7 linked regions of the Homo sapiens genome follow. The protein of the gene in region 3 purifies or fractionates together with the protein of the main gene of each other region. This does not show direct contact. Each region holds a gene or a part of one and is shown on either strand. Other genes may lie near its edges.

What was found.
Region 1: the proteins of NXF2 (region 3) and NUFIP1 purify together in Homo sapiens (affinity purification with mass spectrometry, with the first as the bait; 2 studies listed by BioGRID). This does not show direct contact.
Region 2: the proteins of NXF2 (region 3) and NUP42 purify together in Homo sapiens (affinity purification with mass spectrometry, with the first as the bait; 2 studies listed by BioGRID). This does not show direct contact.
Region 4: the proteins of NXF2 (region 3) and RGPD5 purify together in Homo sapiens (affinity purification with mass spectrometry, with the first as the bait; 2 studies listed by BioGRID). This does not show direct contact.
Region 5: the proteins of NXF2 (region 3) and ZNF324 purify together in Homo sapiens (affinity purification with mass spectrometry, with the first as the bait; 2 studies listed by BioGRID). This does not show direct contact.
Region 6: the proteins of NXF2 (region 3) and RGPD8 purify together in Homo sapiens (affinity purification with mass spectrometry, with the first as the bait; 2 studies listed by BioGRID). This does not show direct contact.
Region 7: the proteins of NXF2 (region 3) and CEP131 purify together in Homo sapiens (affinity purification with mass spectrometry, with the first as the bait; 2 studies listed by BioGRID). This does not show direct contact.

The regions. Positions count from the first base shown.
Region 1 is NC_000013.11:44,958,472-44,961,971, reverse strand, and holds part of NUFIP1 (FMR1-interacting protein NUFIP1), read left to right. Parts: intron 1-2,397; coding exon 2,398-2,591; intron 2,592-3,500. UniProt on the Homo sapiens protein: Binds RNA.
Region 2 is NC_000007.14:23,185,048-23,188,547, forward strand, and holds part of NUP42 (nucleoporin NUP42), read left to right. Parts: intron 1-22; coding exon 23-251; exon of another isoform or gene 252-255; intron 256-2,004; coding exon 2,005-2,099; intron 2,100-3,500.
Region 3 is NC_000023.11:102,323,667-102,327,166, reverse strand, and holds the end of NXF2 (nuclear RNA export factor 2), read right to left. Parts: intron 3,498-3,500; coding exon 3,315-3,497; intron 905-3,314; coding exon 844-904; intron 698-843; coding exon 653-697; 3' UTR 445-652; downstream 1-444. UniProt on the Homo sapiens protein: Involved in the export of mRNA from the nucleus to the cytoplasm.
Region 4 is NC_000002.12:109,853,305-109,855,754, forward strand, and holds part of RGPD5 (RANBP2-like and GRIP domain-containing protein 5/6), read left to right. Parts: exon of another isoform or gene 1-2,385; intron 2,386-2,450.
Region 5 is NC_000019.10:58,465,893-58,469,879, forward strand, and holds the start of ZNF324 (zinc finger protein 324A), read left to right. Parts: upstream 1-1,187; 5' UTR 1,188-1,291; exon of another isoform or gene 1,292-2,286; coding exon of another isoform or gene 2,287-2,295; intron 2,296-3,287; coding exon of another isoform or gene 3,288-3,293; coding exon 3,294-3,414; intron 3,415-3,835; coding exon 3,836-3,952; intron 3,953-3,987. UniProt on the Homo sapiens protein: May be involved in transcriptional regulation. May be involved in regulation of cell proliferation.
Region 6 is NC_000002.12:112,427,146-112,430,645, reverse strand, and holds part of RGPD8 (RANBP2-like and GRIP domain-containing protein 8), read left to right. Parts: intron 1-3,500.
Region 7 is NC_000017.11:81,198,966-81,202,465, reverse strand, and holds part of CEP131 (centrosomal protein of 131 kDa), read left to right. Parts: intron 1-67; coding exon 68-226; intron 227-2,019; coding exon 2,020-2,137; intron 2,138-2,630; coding exon 2,631-2,747; intron 2,748-2,916; coding exon 2,917-3,085; intron 3,086-3,494; coding exon 3,495-3,500. UniProt on the Homo sapiens protein: Component of centriolar satellites contributing to the building of a complex and dynamic network required to regulate cilia/flagellum formation.

The sequences.
Region 1 (3,500 bases), on a different chromosome or scaffold from region 3:
TATAACAGAACTACTCCCTTGAAGGTGAAATAGAGTGCAAATAACAGATACACTACTTTCTCAATTAAGTCTTATAGATGTCATTAGTGAAGGATCTTCTTAACTCATTACTTATTAGTGAATACCTTAATGATGATCATTCAGAAGCTAGCTGTGGTCAGATGCTGTAAGAGAAAAGATAACGGGGAAGGCATCCGTGAATGGGAGCTCAAAGAAAGTGGCATCTCTTCATTATCCTTATGGGGCCAGTGGGCTGGAGGCAGAAACTAGACCTGTTTTCTTTGCAGTGACACTGTTAGGTTCTTAGCCTGACATCTGTGGATGGACATAGGAGATTGGTCCATGGCTTTCTGCAAAATTTGGACTATACATATATATTAATTTTTGTAATGAGATTCTCCAAGGGTTATTATGACCCTAAAGGGATTAAAAATCTCTGGATTGCAGATATATAAACATGTTGATTTAACAAATTATTTCAAAAATGTTATGATAGTAAACTACCATTTATTAAGGGCTTAATGTGTTATCTTGCTCTGTGAAGTACTGTATTTATATTATCTGAATTCTATGTCCCTATAATTCCCATTCTGTTTAAAGGAGTAAACAGGCTTAGGCTTACAAATATTTGTACAGCAGACACAGCCCATAACTGACAAAGTTGAGATTTAGATGCAGATTTCTAATTATTTACTGCATCCTCCATTATTAATGAAAAATGAATTTTGCCCAATAAATGGCAAACTGTCAAAAGCCTATCTTTGCAAAAACTCAGTCCCACCAATGAATACCTTGTGTTATTGTCTACTATGAAGGAACCTTTTTTTAACTGTCTTCCCCGCCCCCGCACACACACACACAGTTTAAATTAGAAGATGCTCACATAAATACGTGCTTTCTTTTTTTTTTTTTTTTTTTTCTGGAGACAGAGTCTTACTTTGCCCGGGCTGGAGTGCAGTGGCACAATCTCGGCCCACTGTGACTTCCACCTCCCGAGTTTAAGCAATTCTTGTGCTTCAGCCTCCCGAGGAGCTGGGACTACAGGCACCTGCTACCGTGCCCAGCTTATTTTTTGTATTTTAGTAGAGACGAAGTTGCCCAGGATGGTTTCGAACTCCTGAGCTCAAGTGATCCGCCCACCTTGGCCTCCCAAAGTGCTGAAATTAAAGGCGTGAGCCACCGCGCCCGGCCAATACTTGCTTTCTTTCTAAAAGTAGTTGTAGCTGTTGAGAGGGCACTTGATTTGAGCTGGCTGTGAAATTGCAATAGGCTTATGTGTTCTGATAGGCCTATAAAGCAGAGAAAATAGTACCTGTGTTACCTATTTCAGAGGGTTCATGAAGGTCCAACAAGTCATATTTGTAAATGCTTCAGAAACTTTAACTCCTTAAAAATGAGTAGACAAGGCCAGGTGTAGTGGCTCATGCCTATAATCCTGGCACTGTGGGAGGCTGAGGTGGGTGGATCACCTGAGGTCAGGAGTTCGAGACCATCCTGGCCAACATGGTGAAACCTTGTCTCTACAAAAATACAAAAATTAGCCGGGCTGATGGTGGGTGCCTGTAGTCCCAGCTACTCGGGAGGCTGAGGCAGGAGAATCGCTAGAACCCAGGAGGTGGAAGTTGCAGTGAGCCAAGATCATGCCATTGCACTCCAGCCTGGGCGACAGAGTGAGACTCCGTCTCAAAATAAAATGAGTAGACAAGAGTGAACATACTTTATAAACTCTGAGAAACACTTTGAGCTGGGCACAGTGGCTCACACCTGTAACCCCAGCACTTTGTGAGGCCGAGGTGGGCAGATCACGAGGTCAGAAGATCGAGACCATCCTGGCCAACATGGTGAAACCTTGACTCTACTAAAAATACAAAAATTAGCTGGGTGTGGTGGCACGTGCCTGTAATCCCAGCTGCTTGGGAAGCTAAGGCAGGAAAATCGCTTGAACCTGGGAGGTGGAGGTTGCAGTGAGCCAAGATCATGCTACTGCACTCCAGCCTGGGTGACAGAGCAAGATTCTGTCTCAAAAAAAAAAAAAAGAGAAGAAAAAAGAAACTTTCATGTACAATAGAAGAATGAAATAATGCTGCCAGTTAAATTGGCCTTTAATGATAATACGACACAGCCCAATTTCAGAGGGATAACAATATGGGTAGAAATTTGCAGCGTAGAATCAAGAAGGTGTGGTATATTGTGGGGTGCTGTCCTTCTAAAGTTCTATCATAGGCTTCCCTGTCTTTGAAAGTCACTGGAATTTCTTTTATTTTCGTCTCTTTAATGTACTAGGCTACAAGTGATCAGTTTTACAGCTAGGTTTCTTTTGTATCTAGTAGTCTTTTTCAAAATTTTCTTGGAAGGTCAGTGCCTTTTATATTAAAAATTGCAATTTTCTTACTCCAGCAAGATGAAGGGGATGTCCAGACATTCACAAATGGCAAAGATCAGAAGTCCTGGCAAGAATCACAAATGGAAAAACGACAATTCTAGACAGAGAGCAGTCACTGGATCAGGCAGTCACTTGTGTGATTTGAAGCTAGAAGGTCCACCGGAGGCAAATGCAGATCCTCTTGGTGTTTTGATAAACAGTGATTCTGGTAAGCTAAACAGGAAAATAACGTATTTATAAGTGTATAGACAATGATGCTGAAGTTGATTATTCACAGCCTTGCTTGTGGAAAGTTTAATATCAAATGTATAACAATGCAGAATGATGCTTTTGTTTTTGTTTTTAATAGGAGCATCTTGTTTAAAACGTCATTTCAGAACATCTTTTCTGAGTCTTGGGTGGGCACATGGGGCAGGGAGGCTATAGGAGAAGGACTGTATTTGCTGGATAATTTTCATTAGTATGAGGTAATCTTAGAAATTTCTTAAGATTGTTTTGAATGTATTAATGCTGTGCATTCAAATTTGCCCAAATATGTGGATTTTCCCTTTACCTATAAAGCAGCAATTCTAACGGAAGTCAGTATACTTTATGCTACTGAGCATGAGCATGATCTCTGGGCAAAAAATACTAATTCATTATGTTTGATCAGTACTGTTCTTCAGAGCATAGATTATATTTATATATGTTTGTCCTTGAATTTCCTCTAAAACATATAGGGCAAGTTAACTTGCTTATTAGTTGAAAAATAAAAGCATTAAAATGCTGGTGTCACATACAGATATCATTTAGCCTTTGAGACTCCATTTCTCTTCCTGAAAAATGAAATGTGTATGTAAATATTTTTACTACATTTTTCTCCAGTAACATTGTGAGGCTTTATCTAATTGCATATGCTTTGTACTGCAAAGGAATACCCAAAGATTATTAGTGAGTGAATTGACATTAGTGACATTGTAGATTTGATTGTAGGCTGTTTAGCTTGGATGATGTTGGCTTCTATGATAATCACATGGCAAGTTTTTGAACTTACGAGTGGCAAGAAAAGAGAGGATAACTAATTCGTTGACTGAATTAGGATGGAAAAAGATCATTGCATAAGGGAACATTAGGCTAA
Region 2 (3,500 bases), on a different chromosome or scaffold from region 3:
TTTGTTTTATTGTTTATTTTAGGTAATAATAGACGTGGATGGAATACAACTAGCCAGAGATATTCCAATGTCATCCAGCCATCCAGTTTCTCCAAATCCACACCATGGGGGGGCAGCAGAGATCAAGAAAAGCCATATTTCAGTTCTTTTGATTCTGGAGCTTCAACTAACAGGAAGGAAGGCTTTGGATTGTCTGAGAACCCATTTGCTTCACTTAGTCCTGATGAGCAGAAAGATGAAAAGAAACTTCTGTAAGTGAAAGTTTTCAGGAAAATTACTATCCATTTGCTTATGTTTTTTCACCTACAATCTTTGTTGTTTCTCTTTTTTTGTAACATCTTTTCACAATACAATATTTTCTTTAAAAAAAGAAATAATGCATTATTTTTAAATCAGAGTAGCAAAAAGAAGAAAAATCACCCACAATTCTATCACTCATAGATAGCCACTCTTTTGCTGTGTATTACCCTAGATTTTATTTCACTTAAAAATATATCATCTTTCTATAATAGTAGAGTGCCTTCCTAGGGGTAATTACGCTTTTTCCACTTTGTGTTGATAACACTATATTGTGAATATCTTTCTAAGATTAGTCCTGCTTAAGTTCATTCTAACTTACAAGTCCTTTACAAAGTATGATGTAATTTAGAACAACTTGTGAACTTGGAGGTCATTTTACCATCTCATTTATTTATTTATTTATTTATTTTGAGACGGAGTCTTGCTCTGTTGCCCAGGCTAGAGTGCAGTGGTACAATCTCGGCTCGCTGCAGCCTCCGCCTTCTGGGCTCAAGCCATTCTTCTGCCTCAGCCTCCCAAGTAGCTGGGATTACAGGCTCCTGCCACCAAGCCAGCTAATTTTTTGTGTTTTTAGTAGAGATAGGGTTTTACCATGTTGGCCAGGCTGGTCTTGAACTCTTGACCTCAAGTGATCTGCCTGCCTCAGCCTCCCAAAGTGCTGGGATTATAGGCATAAGCCACCATACCCAGCCACATATCTTATTTCTTTCTAAAACTTTTACTTGGATTATCCTATTCAAACTGATCTCATTTGATTTCCTACATTTATTATGGAGTAGATACATGACATTTCTTGAGAATATTTATGGTAAAATTTATGGCTGGTGTCAAAACAATGCTTGGCTATCTGTAATGTTCTCTCAACTCATGGTGACTAGGATGGAATTTAAATGTAATTGGTTAGTCTTTTACTTATCCTAATTAAATCAGAACCAGTTGTAGACATGTTGAGTCATATACCATATACAACCGATTTTTTTTTAAGTAAATGAGCAAACAAAACCTTCCTTTCTGCATTTGTTGCAATTCTAAATTTAATACAGTTTTCTCTGTGATAATTCTCCTTTTATTGACATAGTCTAAGTAGGGAGAAACTTTAATTTAGAGCCGAATCTACCCACGGCATTACCACAGATTAGTTGTATGGATGTGGGTCTGTTTCCCCTGTTGCAAAATGTGAGAATTAGATAAAATGATCTCTGAAGTCCTATAACCCACTTTTAAAATATTATGATTCTGTATCACGTAAGTGGTACTTTGTTCTTCCCAGTTAAATGATTATTGATGTTTGTGATAATTAACAAAGATTAAAGTTAGTATTTTAGATTTTAATTCCTAAAAAAAGTATGGTATCTATGATAGTATTTATGTAATTACTATCATAACCAATGTTACATATCATACCAATGATACCATATGATATGGTTACATATCATAACCAATGTTATGTATTAACATTGGTTAATGGGTCAGTGTATTGGAAAGCCAAACTCATTAACTTCTCTGACATTATAATACTATTTGTAACCATGAAATATAGTTCACACTTCTATAAACTTGTGCTTTAAAGAACACTCTTCAGAAAATATAATGGAAAAGTATTTACTAGAATTTAAATTTTCAGTTGTGGAAAACCATTAACAATAAATTTTACCAAGCAGCTAAGAAGATCCTTTACTCTTTTTTTTTTTTTCTTTTTTGCAGGGAAGGAATTGTAAAAGATATGGAGGTTTGGGAATCATCAGGGCAGTGGATGTTTTCTGTTTATTCACCAGTGAAAAAGAAACCTAATATTTCAGGTAACTGAAAAATTGTGCATTTTTAAAGTATGTTCTAAAACTATTATTTTCTAAAACCAAAAGAATGCCAAATAAAGAAATCAACTACCAACTTAGCTACAACTAGGAGAGTTTGGGCATTGTTTAAAGTATTCGAGTATTCTAGCCAAACTTCATAATTTAGAGATTAAGGTTGGAGAATATAGTCTTTTAAGACATATAGTTCTTGGGAGAAAACATTTAAATAAAGCCCAGGAAGAGACTCTACGTTCTTGATTCCCTGTATGTACAACTTTGGAACCTCTTAGCTTCCTGTTGTGAATAGAAGAGTCATCCTGCCTGTCATTAAGGCCTTGGCTGCCTGGTTCTGTTCTTTCTTCCCTGTCTTTCCTTCTAAGAATAGTTGTGTTGAGACCTGTTCTGGAGATAATGTTTAAATGTGAGGAGGCTTAGCTGGGCTACAGGGATAGCAACTTTTTTTTTTTTTTTTTTTTTTTTGAGACGGAGTTTCACTCTTGTCCTCCAGGCTGGAGTGCAGTGACGCGATCTCGGCTCACTGTGACCTCTGCCTCCCAGGTTCAAGTGATTCTCCTGCCTCAGCCTCCCGAGTAGCTGGGATTACAGTTGCCCGCTACCACACCTGGCTAATTTTTGTATTTTTCTAGAGACGGGGTTTTACCATGTTGGCCAGTCTAGTCTAGAACTCCTGACCTCAGGTGATCCGCCCGCCACAGGCTCCTAAAGTGCTGGGATTATAGGCGTGAGCCACCACACCTGGCCTGGAATAGCATTTGCTTTAGAATATTCTCTGTCTCTCTCTCTCTCTCTGGCCTGGAATAGCATTTGCTTTAGAATATTCTCTCTCTCTTTTTTTATTTTTTATTTTTATTTTTTTTTTTGTCCATAGTCCCTAAGCCCTTTCTGGGCTGAAACCTAGACCACCGGGCTTTCCCAAGCCCACTCTGGGTGTTCCTGGGCCTCCGTCCTTTTGAGGAAACAGTGGGTACCTTGCAAATGGGAGCTCTTGCAATCAATATCGCAGAACCTTGGGATCTTTCCTCTGTCTCAGTTCTAGTTGCTCATTTTCTGTGAGCATTTGCATTACAACGCTTCTTATTTATTCACTTGTCCATTTAACAAATATTTACTGAATTTCTTTTGTGCTAAGTGCTAGGAATATAGTGATGAGCAAGACAGACAAGATCCCTTCCTTATGAATCTTACATTCTTGAGGGAGGAAAACAATAAGTGATGCAAATAAACTAAGATAATTTCAGATAATGATATTTTCTATAAAGAAACCACAAAGTATTAAGCCCTTAATCAGCTTAAGTATTAGTACTTGAGTATTAATCCATTCCAAATTGAACCTAATGCCTGTTGCCCTAAAGCAGTGGTTCTTAAAATGTGGATTCCTGAATA
Region 3 (3,500 bases):
GCTGATCCCCTTCAAGAACATGGACATGGAGCACCCGGTGTCAGCTCTCTGAGGAGTGTGCCGGGTAGATGGGCTGAGTATCCCCCTCCCCCGCCACCCCCCGCCGCAGGTGCTACCCTGAGACGACTCCTCGAAAAGTGCACCTTTGGGAAAGGGAGGGGTCGGGACGGTGGATGGAAGCCCCTGGTGTGCCAAGGTAACATGCCTGCTTCTGTGGGCCTCCAGGTCGAGCATCTGACAGAGTCCAACTGTCTCTCAAGGCCAGTCTCTGGAAGGAGCGTGTGTCCTTTCTCATGAGGATTTACGGACAAAATTACCTATGAAGGCAAGCCAGATTCATGTATCTGCTAAGGCCAGCCAGGGATGAACAGGGATGCAGTGCTTTCAGTCCTGGTCCCGCTGGCTCACGGCTGGGGCAGGGGAAGAGCAATCCAGGGCACACAATGTACAACGTGTAACGTCACTCTTTATTATGAAAATAAAATGGTGATCATGAGTGGGGCGAATACACAGAGCAACTGGCTCTTTGGGTGGTTATGTCACGTGGCCTGCAAGTTAACGTTGGCTTCCTGGTCAGCCAGGCCTTAGGCTGGTGAAAAGAGGAAACAAAGAGGATGTGAACGAAGACAAAGAAGACATCGGAGGGCTCCTTTTAGGAGATTTGCTTGAAGGCCTCCGCGGGGATCTTGCCCTCGGTCTAGAGAAAGTAAAGAAAAGGAGTTGGGATGTTAGTAGAGCCAGGTGCACTGGGTTCCATCCCCACACTACCTGGCCTCCATCTTCTTGGCCCTCCTGACGACCCAGAGACAGCTGTCTTTTACCCACTTGATTCCCAGACCTCACCTGGAGCATAGTGAAGGCCTGGCCAGCTCTAGTGTAGTTCCACTCATTGTCCTGAAGGCACCTGGGGTGGGAGAAGAACAGGTGCTCTCCATTACTAGCCCAGGACAGACACGCTGACTATGCAATGCCACCCTTAATCTATGCTACCTTTTTGCTGGGTCACATGTACCAATATGAGCACTATTGTAACAATGAAAAAAGGCCTGGGGAAAACCAAAACGCCCATCCCTGACATTAATGCCCACTAGAATTCAAATCAGAAACATAGCGGTATTCAAATGAACAAGGGAGCTTAATACATATTGATAAAGAAAGATGTTCAAGAAATAACAAGTGGAAATTCAATAATACGTTTCTTTTCTATTGAGATATAATGCACATACTGTAGCAGTCACCATTTTAAGGTGTACAATTCAGTGCTTTTAAGTCTATTCACAAGATTGTGCAACCATCACACCTATCTAATTCCAAACTGTTTTTATCACCTCAAAAAGAAACTCCTTAACTGTTAGAGATCACTCCCTGTTCTCCCTCTTCCCCAGATCTTGGCAACCACTACTCTGCTTTCGGTCTCTACGGATCTGGCTATTCTGAACACTTCGTATGAATGGAATCATATAATTATGTGGCTTTTTGTGACTGGGTGCTCCCACTTAGCACATAATGTTTTCAGGGTTCATCCACGTCATAGCATATATCACAACTACATCCTTTTTTGTGGATGAATAATATTCTAATAATATTCCACCGTATGGATGTACCACATTATCCATTCATCAGCTGAAGGTCAATCCATGTGTTTCCATTTTTTGGCTATTTGGAATAATGCCACTACGGAAATTCATGTGCAAGTTGTTGAATGGGCATATATTTTCATTTCTTTTGGTATACACTTAGGAGTGGGATTACTGGATCATGTGGTAACTCCATGTTTAAGATTTTGAGGAACTGCCAAAATCTTTTTGCCAGCAACTGCTCCACTTTATGTTCCCAGTAGTAATACATGAGATTTCCAATTTCTCTGCATTCTCACCGACATTTGTCATGTTTCCTTTTATGGACTAAAGCTAGCGTAGTGGGTATGAAGTGGTAACTCACTGTGGTTTCGATATGCGTTTCCCTAATGACTAACGATGTTGAGAAGATTTTCACGTGCTTCTTGGTCATTTGTATATCTCCTTTGGAGAAACATCTATTCAAATCATTTCCCCATTTTTTAATTCGGTGGCTTGTCTGTTTGTTGTTGAGTTGTAAGGGTTCTTCTTGTCGGCGATGTGATTTGCAAATATTTTCCCTTGTTCCCACCAGTCGGTTTTCCGCTTTCTTGATAGTGTCTGCTGATGCACAAAAGCTTTTAATTTAGATGAAGTCCAATTTACCTATTTTTTCTTTGGTTGCTTGTGCTTTTGGTTTCATATGTAAGAAATGGTTGCCTAATTCAAGGTAATGAAGATGTACACTTACAGTGTTTTACAGTTCTGGCTCTTATTTTAGGTCATTGATCCATTTTCTGCCAGTGTTTGCACGTGATGTGAGTTAGGGGTCAAAATTAATTGTTTTGCAAGTGGATATCCACTTCTCCCAGCACCATTTGTTAAGAAGACTATTTTTTTTCTCCATTGGATTTTTTCAGCACCCTGAATGATAATCAACTGGACATAAATACGTGAGATTATCTGTGGACTCTCAATTATATTCCATTGATTCCCACGTCTGTTCCTATGTCGGTACCATACAGTCTTGATTAATGTAGTTTTGTAGCAAGTTCTGAAATCGGGAAGTGTGAGTCTTCTAACGTTGTTCTTCTCTTTCAAGATGGTTTTGGCTGTTTGGGGTCCACTGCATTTCCACATGAATTTTGGGATTACCTTGTCAATTTCTGCAAAGAAGTCAGTTGGGATTCTGTCAGGGACTGCAATGAATCTGTAGATTGTTCTGGGTGGTACTGCCATCGTAATGATATTAAGTCTTCCAATCTATGAACGTGGGATGCCTTTCCACGTATTTAGGTCTTCTTTAATTTTTTTCAGCAATGTTTTGCAGATTTCAGAGTACAAGATTTGCGCTTCTTCTCTTAAATTTGTTCCTACATACTTTCTTCTTTTCGATGCTACTGTAGATGGACTTATTTTCTTAATTTCATTTTTTTGGATTGTCCATTGCAACTACATAGAAGTACAAATGATTTTTGTATATTGTATCTTTCAACCTTGCTGACCTGGTTTATCAGTAGTTTATTGTGGTTGATTCTTTCAGATTTTACAAATGGAAGGTAATGTCATTTGGGCATTATGCCATTTAAAAAAATATTTACATATACCAGTATAAAAGTATGATACCTTTTTCATGGACCCACTTTTTTTGGAAGCAAAATACCCAGATAGTTATTTTTCCAAATTGCATGTGAGTTTCCATTACTCATTCCTCTGATGTCCCAACAGCCCCCATCCCCATGTACTCCCAGCACTCACTTCTGAGACCACTCCAGTTTCATCCCAGACTGGGCAGAGAAAGCCTGCACCATTTCCTGCTGCTCCTGGGAGAGGGAGGGCTCAGAGCTGGAGGAGAGTGTGGACACTGGGATGGAGAAGGCACTCTGAGTCTCTTGGGGGCTGGCATCCCTCACAAACAGCTCGTCATTCACGATGCACAGACTG
Region 4 (2,450 bases), on a different chromosome or scaffold from region 3:
AAACAGCCTTCCAAGGCAAGAGCAAATGCACCCTATCTAAGCACAGCTTTTCTCCAATTCTTATTTACCTAAGGAGATGAATAGCTGCCAGGAACATTGTTTGCACAAGGGCAGGAGCCTGCCAGATCTGAGAACACAGCAAAATTTTTATTTTGTCAAAAATCTTATATTCAGCTTACACCATTCATTTCAGGTGAACATACAACAGTCTGCATTTCAGTTTAGGGAAATGTTTACAGTCGTCTGGTTCTCTTTATTCTTGGGAACAAGGTTACCTCACTTGGAACACATAACCAGTGCCAAGTTGTCCATCCCTAAGCAATATCGCTTCCTCCTACTTTCTAGAAGTTCTTCAGGTTGTGGAAGACAGACTTTTCAGAATTGTTTGCCCTCATTCCCTCCTCCAGAAATGCATGCCTTTGTATAATCTCTTCCCCTTGAGAGCCAGTAGGCTAACCTAATGAGTTATGTTTAACCAGTAGAATACAGCAAGAATGATAGATTACAAGAGATTGTGGCTTCTATCTTGCTAGCGGCCTCTCTCTGTCTTCTCTGCTTGCACACTTTGTTGAAGCAAGCTACCATCCCAGAGGCAAGGAACACAGGCCATCAGTTTAGCAGCCTTGAGGAACTAAATTCTTCCAACTACCACATAAGTTTGGAAGTAGATTCTTCTCCAGTCCAGCCTTCAGATGAGACCCCAGCCATGCCAACATCTTGATTGCAGCCCTGTGAGAGACCTTGAAATAGAACCATTTCTGATCTCCTGACCCACAGAAACTGTGAAATAAATATGTGTTAAGGTACTAAGTTTGTAGTAATTTGTTACGCAGCAGATTGTAAATAACACGCAGATAAAACCAGACAGAACAGAAAAATAAAATGACTTTAACTCTAGAAAGTTTCCCCATGTAAAATTTTGAAAATGCTACTCTGCCTAAGGTCAAACTGTCATACATATATACGTATGAAAACACAGAAAGGTGTCTGGAAGGGTAATACCAAATTAAATCTTTATCCAAGAGGAATGAAAACCAGTATTCACACAAAAACCTATGCACAAACCTTGTGAATATATTAAAAACCAGTGAATTATGCACTTTAAAAAGGTGAATTATGTGGTATATGAATTATATCTCCAAAACATTTAATTAAAAACCTGTACACAATTATTCGTAGAAACTTTCTTTAAAATTGCTAAAAACGAGGAAGATCTCAGTTATCCTTCAACTGGCAAATGAATAAACAAACTGGTACAGCCGTGCAATTGAATACTGCTCAGCAATAAAAAAGAATGCACTGCCAGTTCAGCAACATGGGTAATTCTCAAATGCATTATGCCAGTTGACAGAGGTCAGACTCAAAATACTATGTACAGTGTGATTCTACTTATATGACACTGAAAAAAGCAGAACTATAAGGACAGAAAACAGGTTAGCGGTTGCCAAGGAGTGGGAGAAGCAGCCAGGGAGAACTTTGAGGAGATGAAAATGTGCCAGGCCTTGGTCGGTGGTGGTACGTAACTGTGCATTTGTCAAGACTCAGTGCTATATGCTGAAAAGGGCAGGTTTTACTATAAGTAAGTTGTACCTCAATAAACATGATTTTTAAATGATTAAAACTTTGGTTTTTGTTTGTTGTGGTTCAGTTTTAAGGTTTCCCATAAATCTATTGGTTTTAGATTCTAAGTTGTATATAAGCTTCTGTTTTAAAAGAATTTTTTTTTAAATCCCCTTATCGTCAACAATATTTAGTTGTGCTGGAAATTTTATTTTGGAATTGTTTAATAGAGAAAGACAATAAATAATGTTCAAGAACAGACATTGATTCATAACATCAAAGTATATTGTGAGAAGATGGTATTTCAGAATAGAGGAAGAATTTCTTATGTGCTGGTAAGATTGTAGATAATCATTTCTGCATAATTTTCATAGCTGGATTGCTTTAATAAAGCCATTTAAAGGTTAAGTTCTAGATTGCTTCATGTTGCTTATCAATGTTTTAAAGCTAAAATAGAAAATTAGCTGTTAAGTTGGCTCAACCGGAAATTCAGTATATCCTTTAAAAAGAGAAATTTAGTAAGCAGTGTGTCTAAAGAATGACATATGGTTGGGTACAGTGGCTCGTGACTGCAATCCCAACACTGTGAGGCTGAAGTGGGAGGATCACTTGAGCCCAGGAATTTGAGACCAGCCTGGAAAACAGTGAGACCTGCATCTCTACAAAAAAACAAAAAATTACCCAGGCATGGTGGTACACACCTTGTGGTCCCAGTTGCTTGGGAGGCTGAGGTGGGAGAATCACTTGAGCCTGGGAGATCAAGGCTGCATTGAAGTCTCATCACGCCACTGCACTCGAGCCTGGGTGACAGAGCAAGACCCTATCTCAAAAAAAAAAAAAAAAAAAGAACCCCCCCCCCCCACCAAAAAAGGCATGTGATCAGTAAAAAA
Region 5 (3,987 bases), on a different chromosome or scaffold from region 3:
TAGATGGAGGTAGGTATAGAGGGAGGGAGGCAAAAAGAGTTAAGGAACTGGACAGCTGAGAACTGTCTACAGGTTCCAAAAACAAGACAAAGAACCTTTTATTATCTGCCAAACAAGACAGTCTACATTGAGACTGCTCTGCCTTTCGTTTTTATGTGTCAAAGACACTTAAATTGGCCTGTAATCCCAGCACTTTGGGAGAACGAGGTGGGCGGATCACCTGAGGTCAGGAGTTCAAGACCAGCCTGGCCAACATGGTGAAACTCCATCTCTACTAAAAAATACAAAAATTAGCCAGGCATGGTGGCGCACACCTGTGGTCCCAGCTACTACGGAGGCTGAGGCGGGGGGATCACTTGAACCTGAAGGCAGAGGTTGCAGTGAGCCGAGATTGTGCCACTGCACTCCAGCACGGGCAACAGAACAAAGACCCTGTTAAAAAAAAAAAAAAAAAACTTAAATGAGTCCCAAGAAAAAAGGAAAAAAGAATGAATATTGTGATGTGTGGGGCAAGACAAGATCTAGATGGTCTAAGGACAAGCAAATCTGGGGAATTAACTTCTGCCCATCCAAATTACAAGGAAAACAGATGCTTTGGGCAAGTGTCGAGGAACAGTCTCATACTTAAGACAAATGTAGGCTTACGGGCTGAGAATTCTTGGTGTAAAGGTTGAAAACGGACCTTAAACCTTTACGGGACATTGACACAGAGAGGTCAAACCCGCGCCCAGGACGCACAGTCAGTGAGAGGCAGAGCTGGGAAGGGAACCCGGAGCTCCAGGCATCGGCTCCTCCACCTCCACCTGCGCTACCCGGTGCATTTTCTCCTCCGTGCTCACTGCTGGTGTTGCCTCTTGGAACCTCGGCAGTTTCTGCTTTCGCACCTGCAGGGTTTAGTCTCCGGGACTGCTTGGGAGGACACCTGGAATGCCGAAGGCAGGACTACACACCGGGCGAATCCACCAGCGCCACCAAGCCCTTGAAAACCCGAGGCCGCCGCGCGACTCCATTTCCCAGCGCCCCGCGCGGCAGGGGCTTGGACGTTGCCAAGGAGACCGGTAGTGGCCCCGCCTCCACGCAGGGAAACAGGCGGGAACCACGTGACCCGGAAGGCTGTACGCAAGCGTCCGCGGCGCGCACTGGGCCAATGAGAACCGAAGGGCTGGACTTCCGGCGGTGGGACTGTCACTTCGCCGCCCGCGTCAGGCCACACCGGTGGTCTGGGCTGGGGACCGCGGGTCGGGTCCGGTTTCCAGGGGGTTCCTGGTGCTCGAGGCTGGCGGCGAGGAAGGTACTGGCTGAGGGCCCGCGTCGGGCCCGCCCTGCGCACGCGTCGTGATCAAGGGCGCCGGCCGCCGGCCGCGCCCCCAAGCCTCTGTTTCTCAGAGTGCGTCGTGGGCGTCCAGGGGACTGTCGGGCCGCGGCGGGAGCCATGCGCTCTCCCACCGTGCGGCAGCCCAGGAGGCTGCGCGCTGGGCGTTCCACGTCCATGATGGCCGGGGAGACTGAGGCGCGGGGCGGCCCCGGGACGCTGCTGGCGGGGAAAGGCTGGGTGGTCCACGCCTTTCTTCCCTCCCAGCTGCGGGTTCCGCTGGCGGCGGTGGCGCTGACAAGCCCGCGTCGGGGAAGCAGGGGAGTCCCTGCTCACACAGACCGCGCCCTCACGGAGGGAGGCCGCTTCCTAGACCTCGCCTAGTCGTCTTTCCTCTCCCTGCCCTGGGGGGGTTGCGGGGGTCAGTGCAAACTCCTGCGTCCAGGGCACTGGTGAGCTCCCGAGTTCGGGCAGCCAGGGGGCTGAGGTCCCGAAGGAGGCTCCGAGGGGAGAGTCCTGCGTGTGCAAAACCTGGGAGGGGAGCCGAAGCCCAGGTGCTTCTGGGACTGAGCTCTCTCGATGTGGAGCTGGAGTAGAGGGGATGTGTGCGGCTGCAGTATCAGGCGAGGGAGTGGGCTTTATCTCGAGGGCGTCGGGAGACATAGAAGTTTTGAACAGAATCAGGACATCCTCTGAGGACTTTAAAACGGTTCCACCGTTTGTTGCGTGGAGAACAGACATGCAGGGGTGTCGGCATGAAGGGAAGAACCGACTGCCACAGTCTGGGCAGCAGTGGAGGTGGGCGACCAGGTGAATTCTGGTGGATCTGCGGATGCATCAGGTGTGGGCTGTTTGAAGAACTAAGTACCCCATGTTGTTCAGCCTGAGCGCCTGGAAGAAGAGAGCTGCTGTAGATAGAAAGGAGAATTGAAAGGAAAGCAGGTTTCCTTCAGGGGAAAGATCAAGAGTCTGGGATGTCCCAGGTTGGTCATGTCACTGGACCTGACGTTGTTGGCGTCCTGGGCTGTGGACAGGGCCTATGAATTGGACTGAGGAATGGGCAGGGACTCAGCCAGGTGTGGGCAGTTATGGCTTGAGGGTAAAGAAGACCAGCTGGGATGCCTGGGGCTATTGGGAAGAGCCTAGCACCTAACTGAGGAGGGGAGGGTGGCAACAGAGAGGGGAAGAAAGGGGACACCGGGTGAAAGGAGGAAGGGATTGAGTTCCTCTGTGTTCACAGGTTGTTGAGGCTGCTCCCCTGTGGCGACTGGTGAGAATCATCCAGTCCCTCAGGCTGGATGAGCAGCCTGGAAATGTCAGGCAAGCAGGCTCAGCAGGGGAGGGTCCCAGTGATGGGTATGCCTGGGAAGCCCCTGCTGGGACTCACAGTTTCTTGCTACAAGAGCAGGAAGGGTGCATCTGGGGAGGGTCATGAGTGGTCATGCTGAGTCACGAGTGGACACCTGGGGCTGCTCTTGGTGTGGCAGCTGAGGGCCCAGCCAGGACTTGTTCTAGCTTGCTTGTGTATGGCGTTGCCAGTGGGGAGGCCAAGAAGGCATCTGGGGTCTGGTCAGGGAGGGCAGAGGGGAGGGGTCCCAGACATGTGAGGGAAGTGCCATCTGAAGATGGTGGGGGCAGAACCCAGGGAAGGAGGGTGAGTGTCTGAGGGACATCATGGAAGGTGGCTGTTGGGATGGGGAGCTTGGTCCTGGCTCACAGCCATACCTTAAACTAAGCTTGTCCAACCCACTGCCCAGGATGGCTTTGAATGCAGCCCAAAACAAGTTCGTGAACTTTCTTAAAACATGAGATGTTTATGCAATTTTTATTTTTTTTAGCTCATCAGCTGTTATTAGTGTTAATGTATTTTATGTGTTGCCCAAGACAATTCTTCTTCCAATGTGGCCCAGGGAAGCCAAAAGATTGGATAACCCAGCCTTAGACCATGGCTGTCTCTTCCTCCCTGCTCTTTTAGGACCAGATGGCCTTTGAGGATGTGGCTGTGTACTTCTCCCAGGAGGAGTGGGGGCTCCTGGACACAGCCCAGAGGGCCCTGTACCGCCGCGTGATGCTAGACAACTTCGCACTTGTGGCCTCGCTGGGTAAGGTCCTAGATACTCCATGAAATGGGCAACTGATAACAAGCTGACTGGCCAGGGCTGCCCCCTCACCTCCCTGGTGGCTGACGAGCAGGCCTATACCTTGCAGCCAGGAGCCATGTGGAATAGGGGTCTGGTCCTATAGACATGCAGTCTGGTTGGCTCAACCACTCCCTGTGGCGCTGTCCGGCTGTGGCCTCTCCGAGCCTTGGCTCAGTCCCCTTCCTTTGGTGCCCTGGGCACAGTTGCTGCCCTGGGGATGAATGAGCTATTCCTGTGAGCCCCTTGCCCTGTGCCATCTTTAGATTCTGCAGTTGCACAGATGACATTTTCTGTTTCCGTGAAGCCCTGACTCCTGCCCTCTGTTTGGAGGTGGGTTATCTTGAGCTGGGGCTGGACTCTAACCTGCACCTCCTCCTCACAGGACTCTCCACCTCTCGACCTCGTGTGGTCATCCAACTGGAGCGTGGCGAGGAGCCCTGGGTTCCCAGTGGAACGGACACAACCCTGTCCAGGACCACCTACAGGAGGCGCAACCCTGGTGAGAGGGAGCTCAGGGTGGGGTGAATTCAGGAC
Region 6 (3,500 bases), on a different chromosome or scaffold from region 3:
AGCAACCTTAGAGCCTTTCTGAGATTCTTAGTGGGGACCTTGGCTTCCAAAAGATTAAAAACCACTGGTCTAGACAGAAGTCAGAATGTTCTTTCAACTACATAACTTCTCCATTAAATAAAGTGGAGTGGTAGCAACATTTTGACGATTGGTTATTATGACCACCTCTCTTACACTTAGAGTCTTTTTTTCCCCCCCAAATTTAAAGTCATTTACATTAGAACCTGGGGATTTCAGCGGAATATGGATTAACTAGTGAGTAACTGGAACATGTGAAGCTATTCTGTAAAGTTAGGTTTGAGTGAAATGACAAAACAGGGTGCTTTGGATAGAAGGTAAAGAATGGAGGGAGAAGAGGCAGTGGCTGTGAAGAATATGAAGAGGTTAGTATTCTCCCCCAGTTTGGCAGAGGCTGGCCATCTGTGAACTGCCCATGCCTTCTAGAATGTCGGAGTTTTGGTGTGTGATGATGCGTCTGTATATCATATCTTTCTAGTCTTCCATTGTGCTTTCATTTGTTAGTCTTCTCTTGTTTTGCCATTTTTCTACTCCCTCACATGTGCTTTTGCCCTTCTTAAAAATATTCTTCGTCTGTAATCCGAGCACTTTGGGAGGCCGAGAGACCAGCCTGACCAATATGGTGAAAATCTGTCTCTATTAAAAATACAAAAATGAGCCGGGCGTGGTGGCAGCGCCTGTAGTCCCACCTACTCGGTAGGCTGAGACAGGAGAATTGCTTGAACCCTGGAGGCAGAGGTTGTGGTGAGCAGAGATTGCGCCACTGCACTCCAGCCTGTGTGACAGAGCGAGACTCTGTCTCCAAAAAAGAAAAAAGGAAAAAAATATAATTCTTTCTCTAGTTTTTCTTTTTCCCGATGGCTTCTGTTTAGTTTTTCTATGTTCTGTCAAGTCGATTTCTTATTCTGCAGCTGATTCCTACTTCTCAAAGTCTACTTGACAGCTCTTATTTTTATTTATTTGTTTTTTAGAATAGGGTCTTGCTGTGTTGCTCATCAAATTTTTGGGCGTAAATGATCCTCCTACCTCTGTTTCCTGAGTACTTAGGACTACAGGCAGGCACCTTTGACAGCTGTTAGTTGTTTTTTCTGCCCTTTACATCTATACTTCATACTTCTGAGTAACACACATATATACTTTTGTTATTTTTAATTCCCTTTCTCCCATTTTAGACATTTTCTTTTCTTTTCTTTTTTTTTTTTTTTTTTTTTTGAGACGGAGTCTGGCTCTATCGTCCAGGCTGGAGTGCAGTGTCGCGATCTCGGCTCACTGCAAACTCTGCCTCCGGGGTTCACGCCATTCTCCTGCCCCAGCCTGTAGCTGGGACTACAGGCACCCGCCACAACACTCGGCTAATTTTTTAGCATTTTTAGTAGAGACGGAGTTTCACCGTGTTAGCCAGGATAGTCTCAATCTCCTGACCTCATGATCCGCCCGCCTCAGCCTCCCAAAGTGCTGGGATTACAGGCGTGAGCCACCGCGCCCGGCCCCATTTTAGACATTCTGTACTGGCTATTATGCTCCTCCAAAACTGTCCTCAGACACTTTGGTTTGCCCCTCATTCTTTCAGTACTGTTACTGCAGTTTTTGTTTAAATGAATAGTTAACATTTATATAAATAGAAGGTAAATATTTTTGCATTTGAATTGCCCTTGTTGTGCAGTTTTTTGTTGTTTTTTTTATTATACTTTAAGTTTTAGGGTACATGTGCACATTGTGCAGGTTAGTTACATATGTATACATGTGCCATGCTGGTGTGCTGCACCCACGTTTTCCTGGACTGAATAATTGCTTTATTTTTTGGTTTGCTTGTATGTTGTGTTACTACTTGCTTACTTAAACTCAGCAATTTAAACCCTCAAATGTGGTCAAACTGGTCACATAATCCCATCAATTTCAGCTTAAAACATTGATTGATTGATTGATTGTCTGTCTACCTGGAATACCCTTACTAACCAACTTCTCCAACCCGGATTGGTTTTTCTTCCTCTTTGCTACACAGCTGTGCTCTTGGGACTTCCCTTTATCACCAGTTTGAGAATTCCCTTCATCTTTTTTCTGAGTTAGACCCTTTGTTTCTTGTATCTCATGTCCTCTTCATTTACTTTCTTTGTTTTGGTGTAGCATAGTCTCACTTGCTTTGAGGAAAAGTGGATGAGAGGTTTTTTTGTTTGTTTTTGTTATGGGACAGAGTCTTGCTCTGTTGCCCAGGCTGGAGTGCAGTGGCATGGTCTCAGCTCACCGCAACCTCCGCCTCCCAGGTTCAAGTGATTCTCCTGCCTCAGCCTCCCGAGTAGCGGGATTACAGGTGTGCGCCACCATGCCCGGCTAATTTTTTCTATTTTTAGTAGAGATGGGATTTCACCATACTGGTCAGGCTGGTCTAGAAACTAATGGTATGTCTTTAAAACATCTTTACTTAATTTAGTTGATCATTTGGTTATCGAATTCTGAGTTTCAAATAATTTTTTTTGCAATTTTGAAAGCATTGCTCCATTTTCTAGAAGTTCTGTTGTTAGGAGTCCCATGAGATTCTTGTTCTTGGTAACTTAAAGGTTTTCTGGAAGTGTCCTTTCAATTGGGAAACTCATTTCTTTCAGTTCTGTAGCATTTCTTGTATTATTTCTTTGACCATTTCTTACCCTTTTTTTTAATGATGTTTACCTGAAAGCTGGAGTTTCTCTAATTTTTCTCTTATTCTCCTCTTTTGTTTGTTCTGCCTTTTGAGAGATTTCCTTACCCTTATGTTCCAGGGGAAGAAGATTGGGGAACTCATGGTTCAGTATCTAGACTTTTCCTCATTGTCCTGTATAATCACGGCCTTCACCCTTGTTGGGACTCCACAGATTTGGAGCTGATCAGATGGGTTTGTTGAGAACAGCAGCTTTTTTGGAGGATTTTAGGGGGAGGGAGATTCATTTGACTGTGCAAGATGGGCGACAGGGTGAGACTCCGTTTGAATTAAAAAAAAAAGAGAGAAATTTAGAACTGCATAATGAAAAAGTAGGCCACAAATATTAAGTTTTGGACAATTACAATTACATCTCTATCTTACTGTGCAAGATAGCGATGATGTGGCATCTCTTAGGGTCTTACTGTTCCTGTTTTCAGCCCTGCATCAGTTCTTGATATTTGGCAGCTTAAGTGAATTCAGGTATTTGCTTATAGTGACATCTGCTGTCATGTAAAGAAGTACTGCTTGCATCAGATATTGTCCTGTTTACATAACATGGGCTGTGCTCCTTTCTAGCTGTATATCTTTAAACAAGGCATTTGTCTGCTTGAGCTTCAGTTCCCTTGTAAAGTGAGCAGGTTAGAGGCAAAAGATCATATAGAAGAATAATTTGTAAAGTTGTTTAATTATCTTAAGATTGTCTACTTTAATAACATAGTTGGAAGCAAAGAAGGTAATGGAATTATTTTTCTATTATGTTTTAACATAGTTGGAAGCAAAGAAGGTAATGGAATTATTTTTCTATTAT
Region 7 (3,500 bases), on a different chromosome or scaffold from region 3:
CTGCTGCCTGTGGGCAGAGCTGTTCCCCTGGGCGGTGAGACGAGGGTGTTTTCTTCTTACCTGTCAGCAACATCATCAAGGCAGCCACCTGTGAGGGCAGTGAGAGCAGCGGCTTTGGGAAGCTGCCGAAGAATGTCTCCAGTGCCACCCACTCAGCCCGGAACAATACTGGGGGCAGCACGGGCTTGCCCAGGCGGAAGGAGGTGACGGAGGAGGAGGCTGAGAGGTGACCGATCTTGGGGCGGTGGGGGGGGGCCTGAGCCTAGAACACAGAGGTGGGCAGGCATCAGGGTCTGGGGGGCTCACACCTCCGAGGATAGAAATTTCCATTTAATAATTGTTTTAATTTAATTTTTTTTTTTTTTGAGACAGAGTCTCGCTCTGTCGCCCAGGCTGGAGTGCAGTGGCGCGATCTCTGCTCGCTGCAAGCTCTGCCTCCCGGGTTCACACCATTCTCCTGCCTCAGCCTCCCGAGTAGCTGGGACTACAGGTGCCCGCCACCACGCCTGGCTAATTTTTTGTATTTTTAGTAGAGACGGGGTTTCACCGTGTTAGCCAGGATGTTCTCGATCTCCTGACCTCGTGATCCGCCCGCCTCCGCCTCCCAAAGTGCTGGGATTACAGGCGTGAGCCACCACCCCCGGCCTGTTTTAAAATATTGAGACCGAGCAGACCCCATGTGGTGTGGTTCTATTTACATAAAACACCAAGCAAAGGCAAGTTTATCACAGGAGGTCGAAGGCTGGTGTAGGGGTGGCAGAGAGGGCTCCTCCAGGGGCAGTGGAACATTCCAGAACTGCACTGTGCTGATGGTCACACAACTCTAGATTTGCTAAAAATCATTGACTTGTACACTGAAAATGGGTAGATTTTATAGTATGGAAATTGTACCTCAGTAAAACTGTTAATTAAAACAACATTAAAGGCAAAGAAGATACAGAACTGAAAAAAGCCAACAACACCCAAAGCTCCAGGGGCTGTGGGCGGAGCCTCCTGTGATGATGACTGTTGGGGGCTGTGCCCCTGCCGCTTGCCCCTGGGGAGCTGGAGGGGCTGTGGGCGGAGCCTCCTGTGACCATGACAGTCGTTTCTTGTCAGGACAGTCGCGGGGGTACCTCCCTGCCTGGACTTTCGGAGCCTGCTCCTGGCGGAGCCGTCACCTACCCTACCGCCCAGTTAGGGCTAGGGAGACCAGGCCTGTAGACGCGGTGGGTGGCACGAGGGAAGGGGGACCAGAAGCCCGCAACCCCTTGAAGCCCCCCAGTTCTGCCCGGGGCAGACTGCTCCCGAGCTAGGGCTCACACGTTCTGGGTTCTCTGTTAGTGCCTTTGCTGAGAGAATCCACACATGGTCCCGAGAGCCAAGGTGAAGCATTTTTTTTTTTGCTTAATCAGTTTTACTTAGTATAATTTGTATACAATAGAAGGTGCCCATTGTAAGTGTGCAGTTCCATGAGATTCCACCAGGGTGTATAGTGCTGTCTGTGGACACAGCAGACCAAGATAAGGAAACGGCCCAGCACCACCAGGCTTCCCTCGAGCTCCTTCCCCGCCCAGATGCCAGCAGCCACCAGTCTGTTCCCTCATAGCCCTGCCTGTTCCGACCACCCTCTCTGTGGAGCCACGGCCTGTGGTCTGCACTGGCCTGAGTCCCGGGCCTGTTGCCTGTGGGTAGGGTCCCGCCATCCAGTATTCACGCTGTAGCCAGGTCATGGGCATTTGAACTCTTCCCACTTCCTGGCAATTGTAAATAAGGCCACACAGGCCTGCGTGGGTAGGCGTTTCCTCTCCCCTGGGCACCTTCCCAGGAAGAAGGTTTTGGGTTTTAGTGGAGCTGGTCCAGGCGGCTGGTCCTGCCATGTGAAAATGGTCCAGGTGGGCTGGTCCTGCCTTGTGAAAAGGGCTACTTGAGTGCAGCCGCCGGCTTCTCTCTTCCCCGGCTCGACCTTCCACCAGCAGCCAGCTGGGTCCTGCCGGGGCGCTGGTCCTGTCTTGGCCCTGAGTCCTGCTCTCCGGGCAGGTTTATCCACCAGGTGAACCAGGCCACTGTCACCATCCAGCGCTGGTACCGGCACCAGGTGCAGCGGCGCGGAGCAGGAGCTGCCCGCCTGGAGCACTTGCTTCAGGCCAAGCGGGAGGTCAGTGTGGGCGTCTCAGTCACTCCATGCTCCCCCGGGGGGTCTGGCCCAGAATCCCAGGGGTTTGAGTTTCTGGGACAGGTGGAATCAAAGCCTAGGATTGCTCGTGGGCCCCGTCTCTGGGTGCAGCATCCTTCTTGACCCTGGGTCCCCGCGGACAGTCAGGGTGGTCCTCACTGGCGGTCCTCAGGGCCTGGGTGTCAGGAAACGCCTGCTGGGTCCATCCCAGGCTGGAGAGTCTCAGGAGGACGTTCTGTGGGGGCAGAGCTGTCTCCCCCACGCCAGAACTGTTGGCCACCTGCGACGTAGGGCTCATCCTCTGTAGAGCAGAGAAATGGCAGGTTCAAGGTCCTGGTGGGGTTTCACTTTCCCTGCTGGCCCTGAGATTCCACGAACTCTAGGGGACTCCAGGGCGTTGTGGGGAAACCTCTGGTCTGGGTCTGGATTCCGTCTTCCAGATGTAAACGCCACATGGCACCGGCTTCTTTGGCAGGAGCAGCGGCAGCGGTCAGGCGAGGGGACCCTCTTGGACCTGCACCAGCAGAAAGAGGCAGCCAGGAGGAAGGCCCGGGAGGAGAAGGCACGCCAAGCCAGGCGAGCAGCCATTCAGGTGCTGACCGCGCAGGGACCACTGAGCAGCACCGTGGCCCAGGCCTGACCGTGCGGGGCTGCTGCTGGGGCTCCCTGGGCCCCGGGACACTTAGCCTCAGGGCAGCTTGGCTGTGGAGCCTGGGGTCGTCCTCTCCCAGGGACAGTGCTCAGCGATGCTCCCACTGCAGGAGCTGCAACAGAAACGAGCCCTGAGAGCCCAGAAGGCGAGCACTGCCGAGCGTGGGCCACCTGAGAATCCCAGGGAGACCAGAGTGCCAGGAATGCGGCAGCCTGCTCAGGAGCTGTCCCCCACACCAGGCGGCACTGCCCACCAGGCCCTCAAGGCCAACAATACTGGTGAGAGTGGCTCCACGCCCGCCCTGCTCTGGGGGGTGGACTGCAGCCAGGAAGGAAGTGCAGCCCTTGTGGACCTCCTCTCGGCCTCCTGTGCTGCTGCCCATGTTGGCGGCCCCAGTCCTCGGAGTTAGGGGCCTTGGCCCCCAGCTGACCTGACGAGGGTGCCGAGACCTTGACAATCAAATGGTCCTGGACGTAGGGATCCCTACAGAGTAGAAGGCCCGGAAGGGAGGGGTGGCACTCATCCTCCACAGCTCCACACCCAGAAGGCCGTGGCTCCCCAGCGGCTCCTCTGCTTCTGGGGTCGCCTCCGCCTCCCCCATGCCTGGCTCCTTCCCGGGGGTGCCTCCAGAGTTGCTGCCCGCCCCGGGATGCTCCCTGTGGAATGGTGCTGTGTTCTGCTGTGCAGGTGGTG